Homo sapiens: one gene and its partner. The protein of the gene in region 2 purifies or fractionates together with the protein of the main gene of each other region. This does not show direct contact. Each region holds a gene or a part of one and is shown on either strand. Other genes may lie near its edges.

Region 1 (4,312 bases), on a different chromosome or scaffold from region 2:
TTTCCACAGGTAGAATATGGTAGTAGACGTGAGGGGCAAACATTTCCTAAATCCTTACCATGTTTGGGGCCGAGGGCCAAGGCCAGCCTTACAAGGCTGTGAGTCTTTTGCGGGAGGAGCCTTGTCTTACTGGAAGCAGAACTTGGATGTAAAGAACTTACAATGAACAGAGAGGTTTTAGCAGGGATGCACAGCTACCCTGCTCTGCTTGACCAGACAGCGTCTGTTTGACAGAGTTGTCCCTGTGAACTTTTCTCACATTTTGGAGCACAAAGTAAATGTGGAAGGTTGGGGGTGGAAGGGGACAACTCCTGAGGCACCCAGATCAGCCGTCCCAACTCTGGCAGAGTTTGCAGCAGAGCTCCTCTCGGAGTTCTAACAGACCTCATCCACCCTTACGTTCAATAATGAGGAACATGTGTTGACATCAAATGAATGGGACAGGCCAGTTGCTCTGTGTTTCCAAGGAGAGAATAAGCACTCAAGTTGGAAGGATCAAGGAGGGCTTTGTGACAGAGATAGGGCTGGCCTGGGTGTTGAAGGAAAGGAATGTGACAGAGGCAGTAAATACACATGACCCTGCTGTCTGCTAAGCAAAACATGCTGAGGGACTGTGCCGGTCTTTCGGCTGTCGAGCCACCGTGGTCACTTCTTCAGCCAGACTGAGTCCTACAGCCTGCCGAGGTCTCGGAGTTGTGAATGACGGAGACTGGGTTGTCACCCGGCTGCGTGTGCCTCTTCCCTTTAGTAGAGTCCCTCATCCCTCTAGAGTCTCCCCCCACCAGCCTGAACCAGGCTGTCGTGGGGCATAGCCTTCCAGGAAGCCCGTCCTGGGCTTCCCTGAAAGACAGACACACAGAGTTCCATGGAATGTCAGTCTGAGAAGATAAGGACATTTAACAAATTAAGAAAGTCATGAGTATTTAGACAATAGAACTAGTCTGGGAGGGCCTTAAATGTCAGCCTGAAAAGTTAAAACTGCTTCCTTTTGGCCATGGGCAGTGACAGAAAGTTTCTAAGTAAGGAGTAGATGATGTCCCTGCAAAATGGTGTTTCAGGAACACTCTTGGCACGTTGTTCAACACTGGGAACATTCTGTCTCTCATGCAGTGTGTGAATTAAGGACAAAATGGAATTTTGAATTTAAGATGTGAAAGCCTTTGTTTTCTACTTTGTCCTCTTACTTTTAGACAGGGTCTCACTCTGTCGCCCGGGCTGGAGTACAGTGGTGATCATGGCTCACTGCAGCCCTAAACTCCTGGGCTCAGGCGATCCTCCTGCCTCAGTCTCCCGAGTAGCTGAGACCACAGACGTACACCATCACACCTGACTAATTTTTAATTTTTTTTTTTTAATTAGAGGCCGTGTCTCACTATTTTGCCCAGGCTGGTGTCAAACTCCTGGGCTCAAGCAATCCTTCTGCCTTGGCTCCCCAAATTTCTGGGATTATGGGTATGAGCCACCGCACCCAGCCCTACTTTGTCTTTTTAGATGGAGCCACAGATGCTAGTGTTTTGGATAGACAGGGCTTCACGAGCAGTGTGGGACAGGGAAGGACCCAGAAGCTGGGGGTCATTGGAGAGGCTGAAATTTCAGATAATTTTTGCATTAGTTTTAAATGAAATTTCGGATAATTTGATTCTAAGTCCTGTATAGAAAGAGAAATTAAACTTAGAGACTTCCTAAATAATAGCACTACAGATTTTACATGCAAAGTGTGGAGGATTACCTTTTACAGCAAGTCAGGCAGAGATTTGGGACCAGGGACTTCTCATGGGGTATATAGGTGGAATGATAACCTCTGCATCCATTCCCAGTGGTAATCTTCAAAAGGATGTATTATAAGTGGTAAATTTCCCTTATGCTCTGTGGCATCTCAGTTTAGCCAGTGGAAAGACTTTTTATAAAGACTTATGCTAAGAGCCTAATAACGGGCCTGAGTACAGAGCTTAATAGTGGGCCTGAGTATATGAGGCTGTAGGGCTGGAATCAGCCATGCTCACCCTCTGGTCTCTGAAAACACAGTTCCATTGTCTGGCACTTAGATGAGTTATTGTCACTGAGCACCATGGCCTGAAAAGTATGGGCATTGTGGCTAAATAGGGTGTTAAGTGCCACCTATCCAGCAGTCCAGCACCTGAGTGACTCCACTGGGTTTGGGGTACCTGAAAAGCAAAGTGTCCCTGTTATCTACTGCTGCATAACAAATCACCCCAAAACTCAGCGACTTAAAACGACAATAACCCGTCATTCTCTCTCTCAGTTTCTGTGGGTTAGGAATTCAAGAGTGGCTAGCTGGGTAGGTCTGACTTGGGTCTTGTGGTCATAGTCACACCATGGCTGGGAGCATCTTGAAGTCTCCACTCGCATCTGTCTTCTGGGCTGAGAAGCTTGCTCAGGTGGGGACTGGGACAGCCGGGGCTCCTGGGGGGGCCTTTCCATCTCTGCATGGTCTGTACAGCAGGGTAGTTTCAGGGTAGCCAGACTTCTTACAAGAAGGCTTAGGGCTCCAAAGGTCCCAAGAGAGCTGGGTGGAAGCTTTATCTACCTTGGAAATCACACAGCAGTACTTCCATCTTACTGTATTAGAGCAATTACGGCCTGTGCAGATTCAGGGGGGTGGCATAGAGACTCTCCTTGATAGCGGAGTGGCAGAGTTCTGGAAGAGCACGTGGGACTGGAAAGAATGCTGTGGTCGCAGATCGTGGGTCTGGAGGCCAAGGTGTACACCCCACATTGGGGCTGCTAGCATCATAACAGTCCACCCATGCTTTGGGGCCTCAGCAACTTCTCATGTCTGTAGGTCCTGGCAAATGTAGCCTACATCATCATAGAGTCCACCGAGGAGGGCACGACTGAATATGGCTTGTGGAAGGACTCTCTATTTCTGGTCGACCTGTTGTGTTGTGGTGCCATCCTCTTCCCAGTGGTGTGGTGAGTAGCTCACAGGGAGGGAGGCCACATGACAGCTTGGCTGTCAAGCCCAATAGCTGAACTGGCCATTCCCAAACTGATCTCAGTCACATGGGACGTGTGTTTAAAAGTACAGCTTTCTGAGTCCCAGACTGACCTGAATCAGCCTCCAGGGGCAGAACCCTGTGTCTTTTTCCAGTTACTCGGGGTATTCTGGCAGAGCTAATCCGTCACCATGAGCTGGCATTTAACAGAGTTCTAAGACAATAGAGAGGAATTGGGAAATGAGAACTTGGTAGTAACTTAAAGTAGCAGCCTGAATTTGTGGTGGTGGTAGGGAGTTGGAGAAATCCCATAAACAGCCAGTTCTTGCCAACTTAGGTGGAAAATGAGGAAGTTCATTAACATAAAACTAGTGATAGTTCTCAGCACACAAACATTTTTGATGTTTTCAGAATGGATTGCTCCATTCCTGGAAATGGCAGTGTTTAGATGCACAGATTGTGCATTGGGTCTGTGTAAAGAAGTGTTAGTGTCAAGTCAGTGGTTGATGAGAAAATATCCTTATTAAATCACATGCAGAGTGGTAGAAATTCAGAAGGCTAGCAGCAATAAAACACTTTACCCTTAGTGATATAATTCCATGGCTATTGGAATGCAATTCTTTTGAAATAAATTTTAAAGAAAATAGATTCACCCCGGCCTTCCATTACAAGTGCTTCTTTTTTTTTTTTTTAACCCGAGATGGAGTTTCGCTCTTGTTGCCCAGGGTGGAGTGCAATGGCTCAATCTCGGCCCACTGCAACCTCTGCCTCCTGGGTTCAAGTGATTCTCCTGCCTCAGCCTCCTGAGTAGCTGGGATTACAGGTGCGTGTCACCATGCCTGGCTAATTTTTTTTGTATTTTTAGTAGAGACAGGGTTTCGCCATTTTGGCCAGGCTGGTCTCAAACTCCTGACCTCCGGTGATCCACTTGCCTTGTCCTCCCAAAGTGCTGGGATTATAGGCATGAGTCACCGCAGCTGGCTGAGGTGCTTCTTATTGCAATGCCCCATCCAGTAAATTAATATTTTTGAGGATCCTGGGGTTTGTCAGTTACTCTCATTATTTATAACATGGTGCAAATGGAGAGTACTTCTCATTCCAGCCAGTTAGATTCACTCTTCACCCTCATTCCATCATACATCACACATGATCTCGTATCAGTTCAGCAGACAGCTACCAGCATAGAAGAGAGTATGAATGATGCTCCCACCTCAGCCTCCTGGGTAGCTGGGACCACAGGCACACACTACCATACCCAGCCAATTTTTTGTAGACAGGGTTTTGCCATGTTGCCCAGGCTGGTCTCAAACTCCTGGGTTCAAGTGATCTTCCCACCTCAGCCTCCCAAAGTGCTG
Region 2 (5,084 bases):
CAAACTACCATCAGAGAATACTATAAACACCTCTACACAAATAAACTAGAAAATCTAGAAGAAATGGATAAATTCCTGGACACATACACCCTCCCAATACTAAACCAGGAAGAAGTTGAATCCCTGAATAGACAAATAACAAGTTCTGAAATTGAGGCAGTAATTAAATAGCCTACCAACCAAAAACAGCCCAGGACCAGATGGATTCACAGCTGAATTCTACCAGAGGTACCAGAGGTACAAAGAAAGAAAAAAAGAAAAACAGGAATTCATTTTATGAGGCCAGCATCATCCTGCTACCAAAACCTGGCAGAGACACCACAAAAAAAGAAAATTTCAGGCCAATATCCCTGATGAACATTGACATGAAAATCCTCAATAAAATACTGGAAAACTGAATCCAGCAGCACATCAAAAAGCTTATCCACCACAATCAAGTTGGCTTCATCCCTGGGATGCAACGCTTGTTCAACATATGCAAATCAATAAATGTAATCCATCACATAAACAGAACCAGTGACAAAAAGCACATGATTATCTCAATAGTCGCAGAAAAGGCCTTCTATAAAATTCAACACCCTTTCATGCTAAAAACTCTCAATAAACTAGGTATTGATGGAATGTATCTCAAAATAATATGAGCTATTTACGACAAACCCACAGCCAATATCATACTGAATGGGCAAAAGCTGGAAGCATTCCCTCTGAAAACCGGCACAAGACAAGGATGTCCTCTCTCACCACTCCTATTCAACACAGTATTGGAAGCTCTGGCCAGGGCAATCAGGCAAAAGAAATAAAGGGTATTCAAATAGGAAGAGAGGAAGTCAAATTGTCTCTGTTTGCAGATGACATGATTGTATATTTAGAAAACCCCATCATCTTAGCCAAAGCTGAAAAGCAACTTCAGCAAAGTCTCAGGATACAAAATCAATGTGCTAAAATCACAAGCATTTCTATACACCAATAATAGACAAACAGAGCCAAATCATGAGTGAATTCCCATTCACAATTGGTAAAAAGAGAATAAAATACCTAGGAATACAATTAACAAGGGATGTGAAGGATCTCTTTAAGGAGAACTAAAAACCACTGCTCAAGGAAATAAAAGAAGATATAAACAAATGGAAAAACATTCCATGCTCATGGATAGGAAGAATCAATATTGTGAAAATGGCCATACTGCCCAAAGTAATTTATAGATTCAATGCTAACCCCATCAAGCTACCATTGACTTTCTTCACAGAATTAGGAAAAACTACTACTTTAAATTTCATATGGGACCAAAAAAGAGCCCATATAGCCAAGACAGTCCTAAGCAAAAAACAAAGCTGGAGGCATCACGCTACCTGACTTCAAAATATACTACAAGGCTACAGTAACCAAAACAGCACAGTACTGATACCAAAACAGATATATAGACAAATGGAACAGAACAGAGGTCTCAGAAATAACACCACACATTTACAACCATCTGATCTTTGACAAACCTGACAAAACAAGCAATGGGGAAAGGATTCTCTATTTAATAAATGGGGTTGGGAAAACTGGCTAGCCATATGCAGAAAACTGAAACTGCACCCTTTCCTTACACCTTATTAACTCAAGATGGATTAAAGACTTAAATGTAAGACCTAAAATCATAAAAAACCCTAGAAGAAAACCTAGGCAATACCATTCAGGACATAGGCATGGGTAAAGACTTCATGACTAAAACACCAAAAAGCAATGGCAACAAAAGCCAAAATTGACAAATGGGATCTAATTAAACTAAAGAACTTCTGCACAGCAAAAGAAACTATCATCAAAGTGATGAACAGACAACCTACAGAATGGGAGAAAATGTTTGCAATCTATCCACCTGACAAAGGGATAATATCCAGAATCTACAAGGAACTTAAACAAATTTACAAGAAAAAAGAAAAACAAACAACTCCATCAAAAAGTGGGCAGAGGATATGAACAGACACTTCTCAAAAGAAGACATTTATGCAACCAACAAACATATGAAAAAAAAGCTCATCATCACTGGTTATTAGAGAAATGCAAATCAAAACCACAATGAGATGTAATCTCATGCCAGTTAGAATGGCGATCATTAAAAAGTCAGGAAACAACAGACGCTGGAGAGGATGTGGAGAAATAGGAACGTTTTTACACTGTTGGTGGGAGTATAAATTAGTTCAATCATTGTGGAAGACAGTGTGGCAATTCCTCAAGGACCTAGAACCAGAAATACCATTTGACCCAGCAATCTCATTACTGGGTATATACCCAAAGGATTATAAATCATTCTAGTATAAAGACACATGCACATGTATGTTTATTGCAGCACTATTCACAATAGCAAAGACTTCGAACCAAATGCCCATCAGTGATAGACTGCATAAAGAAAATGTGCCATGTACACACCATGGAATACTATGCAGCCATAAAAAGCATGAGTTCATGTCCTTTGCAGGGACATGAATGAAAGTGGAAACCATCATTCTCAGCAAACTAACACAGAAACAGAAAACCAAACACTGCATGTTCTCACTCATAAGTGGGAGTTGAAAAATGAGAACACATGGACACAGGGAGGGGAACATCACACACTGGGGCCTGTTGTGGGGTAGGGGTCTAGGGGAGGGATAGCATTAGGAGAAATACCTAATGTAGATGACAAGTTGATGGGTGCAGCAAGCCACCATGGCATGTTTATACCTATGTAACAAACCTACAAGTTCTGCACATAAAGTATAATAATAATAATAATAAAAAGAACCAGAGAAATACACATAGAACCTAAACAAGACCAAGTTCAAAATTCCAAAACTAGTCACAGCTAAACTAAGAGACCAAATCAGTTAGGAGAACCATTTGGGGCCAGTAAAATAACTGGTGTTTCCACCATTTCTTTTTAGATTAAGGAAATTTAGAAGCTATTCTTCCTAACTAATGAAGCCACTGCTATCGCATAAAGATGCCAGTGCCCCTCTCCTGCTCCTGAAGAACCTAATGAAGAGTTGAAAAGCAAACTGAGCAGAACTTTGTACCAGAGTATGGAGCAATGCTGTGCTCACAAGAGTCTATGCAGTTGGTTGATTCTGTCTCTCAGCTGGATGCTCTTTAAGAGAAATGGTCCTCTCTCCATTTATGATGCAAGTTCTTCTCCACTTTTCCACACATGTATGTACACACATGCATGCACACACACACAGCTCTTACACCTTACACAGGAGAAAGGGTAACTTGACCTAGGTTAACTAATAAGGTACTATTCCAGTAAAAGTGCAATTACAGAGTAAAAAGCCAAATCCAACAAATTTTAAAAGACTGGACAAAAAAAGCTATGCATAGCAAAGTAACTATAGATGAAAAGCCCAGAGGCTTGCGAGCTTACCAAGAATAATCCTGCTTGGGGAAAGGTCCAGGACTCCAGAAGGTGTTGAAACTAAATGAGTCCAGCTCTCCAGGAAATCTGGTGGCAATGTGGTGAGTCTGTTGCTTGATAAATCCAAGTAGGCAAGGTTCTTCAGATACCTGAGCGCCTCATTTGGCACACTGGTTATTTTGTTATTGTGCAAGTCCAGGGTCCTCAGAAGGGGCATGTCCAGCAGAGATGCCCAAGGGAAAGCAGCCAGAGAATTCCCATCCAAGCGCAACTCATGCAGTTGCTTCAGGTTGTAAAAGCTGCTGGGGTCAATGCTGGCCACGGAATTGTAAGTCACCCAGAGATACTGGAGCTCCACCAGGTAATAGAAGGCCTCCGCAGAGATTCTGCGGATGACAGTCTTCTCTATGCGAAGCTTCACAGTGTCCACGGGGAGGTTCGTAGGCAGCTCGTTCATATCCATGTCATTACATAGCACCAACCTAGTGTCACAACATGAACAATGTGAGGAAACTCACTTTCCAACACCCATTTGAAAAAAATACTTCTCATTTGAAAAATGTATCAATTTTCAGCTGGGCAGTGGCTCACGCCTGTAATCCCAGCACTTTGGGAGGCCGAGGAGGGCCTTGGTTCAAATCTAACCAAGGTCTAAGGTTTGCCACCTCCTCTGTGGCCATGGAAAACCACTTCACCAGTGTCTCAACCTCATTTTCCCATATGGCACTGTTATGGATGATTAATTACAATGGATGTAAAACTCTACAACTTCCTGGCACAGAATAGGTACTCAGTAGGTATTTGCTGCTACTGTCAACAACCTCGGTTTTACATGGAAAGTAACTGAGGCCCACCAACATTCAGTAACTTTCCAAGGTCACCCAGCTAGTGGGTTTCACAGCCACCTTTCAAAACCACTTCTGTCCAACTTAAAGTGCACCTCTTTAGGAAATGGCCCATTTTAAAAGAACCCCCTGTTAAAATAATAAATCAATCCTTGTTCAGAGAATAATTTATTTAGGTGAAAAAAAAAAGTGTTCACAGTACATGTTTAAAGTTGAACTCTGTTTTAATAACGTGACTTGCACATTGCTTTCTGCCTAAGGAATAAACCAGAAATTAGGAGTTGACCTTGAGCAAGTCACATTTTGATCTTGTTTGTTGGCACATATAAAACAGGCATAGAAAAACAACACTGGGCAATGTCCCAGCTGGGCAATGTGGCTCATGGCTGTAATCCCAGCACTTTGGGAGGTCAAGGTGGGCAGATCACCTGAGGTCAGATGTTTGAGACCAGCCTGGCCAACATGACGAAACCCCGACTCCACTAAAAATACAAAAATTAGCCAGGCGCGGTGGTAGGTACCTGTAATCCTACCTACTCAGGAGGCGGAGGTGGGAGAATCGCTTGAACCTGGGAGGCAGAGGTTGCAGTCAGCCAAGATCACGCCACTGCACTCCAGCCTGGGTGACAGAGCGAGACTCCATCTCAAAATAGAAAAGAAAGAAAGAAAGAAAGAAAGAAAGAAAGAAAGAAAGAAAGAAAGAAAGAAAGAAAGAAAGGAAGGAAGGAAGGAAGGAAGGAAGGAAGGAAGGAAGGAAGGAAGGAAGGAAGGAAGGAAGGAAGGAAGACAACACTGTCCCATGTGTAAATTTAAAGTATGAGGAATCTGAGAATTTAGATTCATTTTAGCCTGGAAAAAGACTT

Evidence for each region. The genes of interacting proteins can lie anywhere in the genome.
Region 1: the proteins of LRIT3 (region 2) and GPR107 purify together in Homo sapiens (affinity purification with mass spectrometry; one large-scale study listed by BioGRID and IntAct). This does not show direct contact.

What each region holds. Positions count from the first base shown.
Region 1 is NC_000009.12:130,101,617-130,105,928, forward strand, and holds part of GPR107 (protein GPR107 isoform 3 precursor), read left to right. Parts: intron 1-2,803; coding exon 2,804-2,934; intron 2,935-4,312. UniProt on the Homo sapiens protein: Has been proposed to act as a receptor for neuronostatin, a peptide derived from the somatostatin/SST precursor.
Region 2 is NC_000004.12:109,850,278-109,855,361, reverse strand, and holds part of LRIT3 (leucine-rich repeat, immunoglobulin-like domain and transmembrane domain-containing protein 3 precursor), read right to left. Parts: intron 3,859-5,084; coding exon 3,386-3,858; intron 1-3,385. UniProt on the Homo sapiens protein: Plays a role in the synapse formation and synaptic transmission between cone photoreceptor cells and retinal bipolar cells.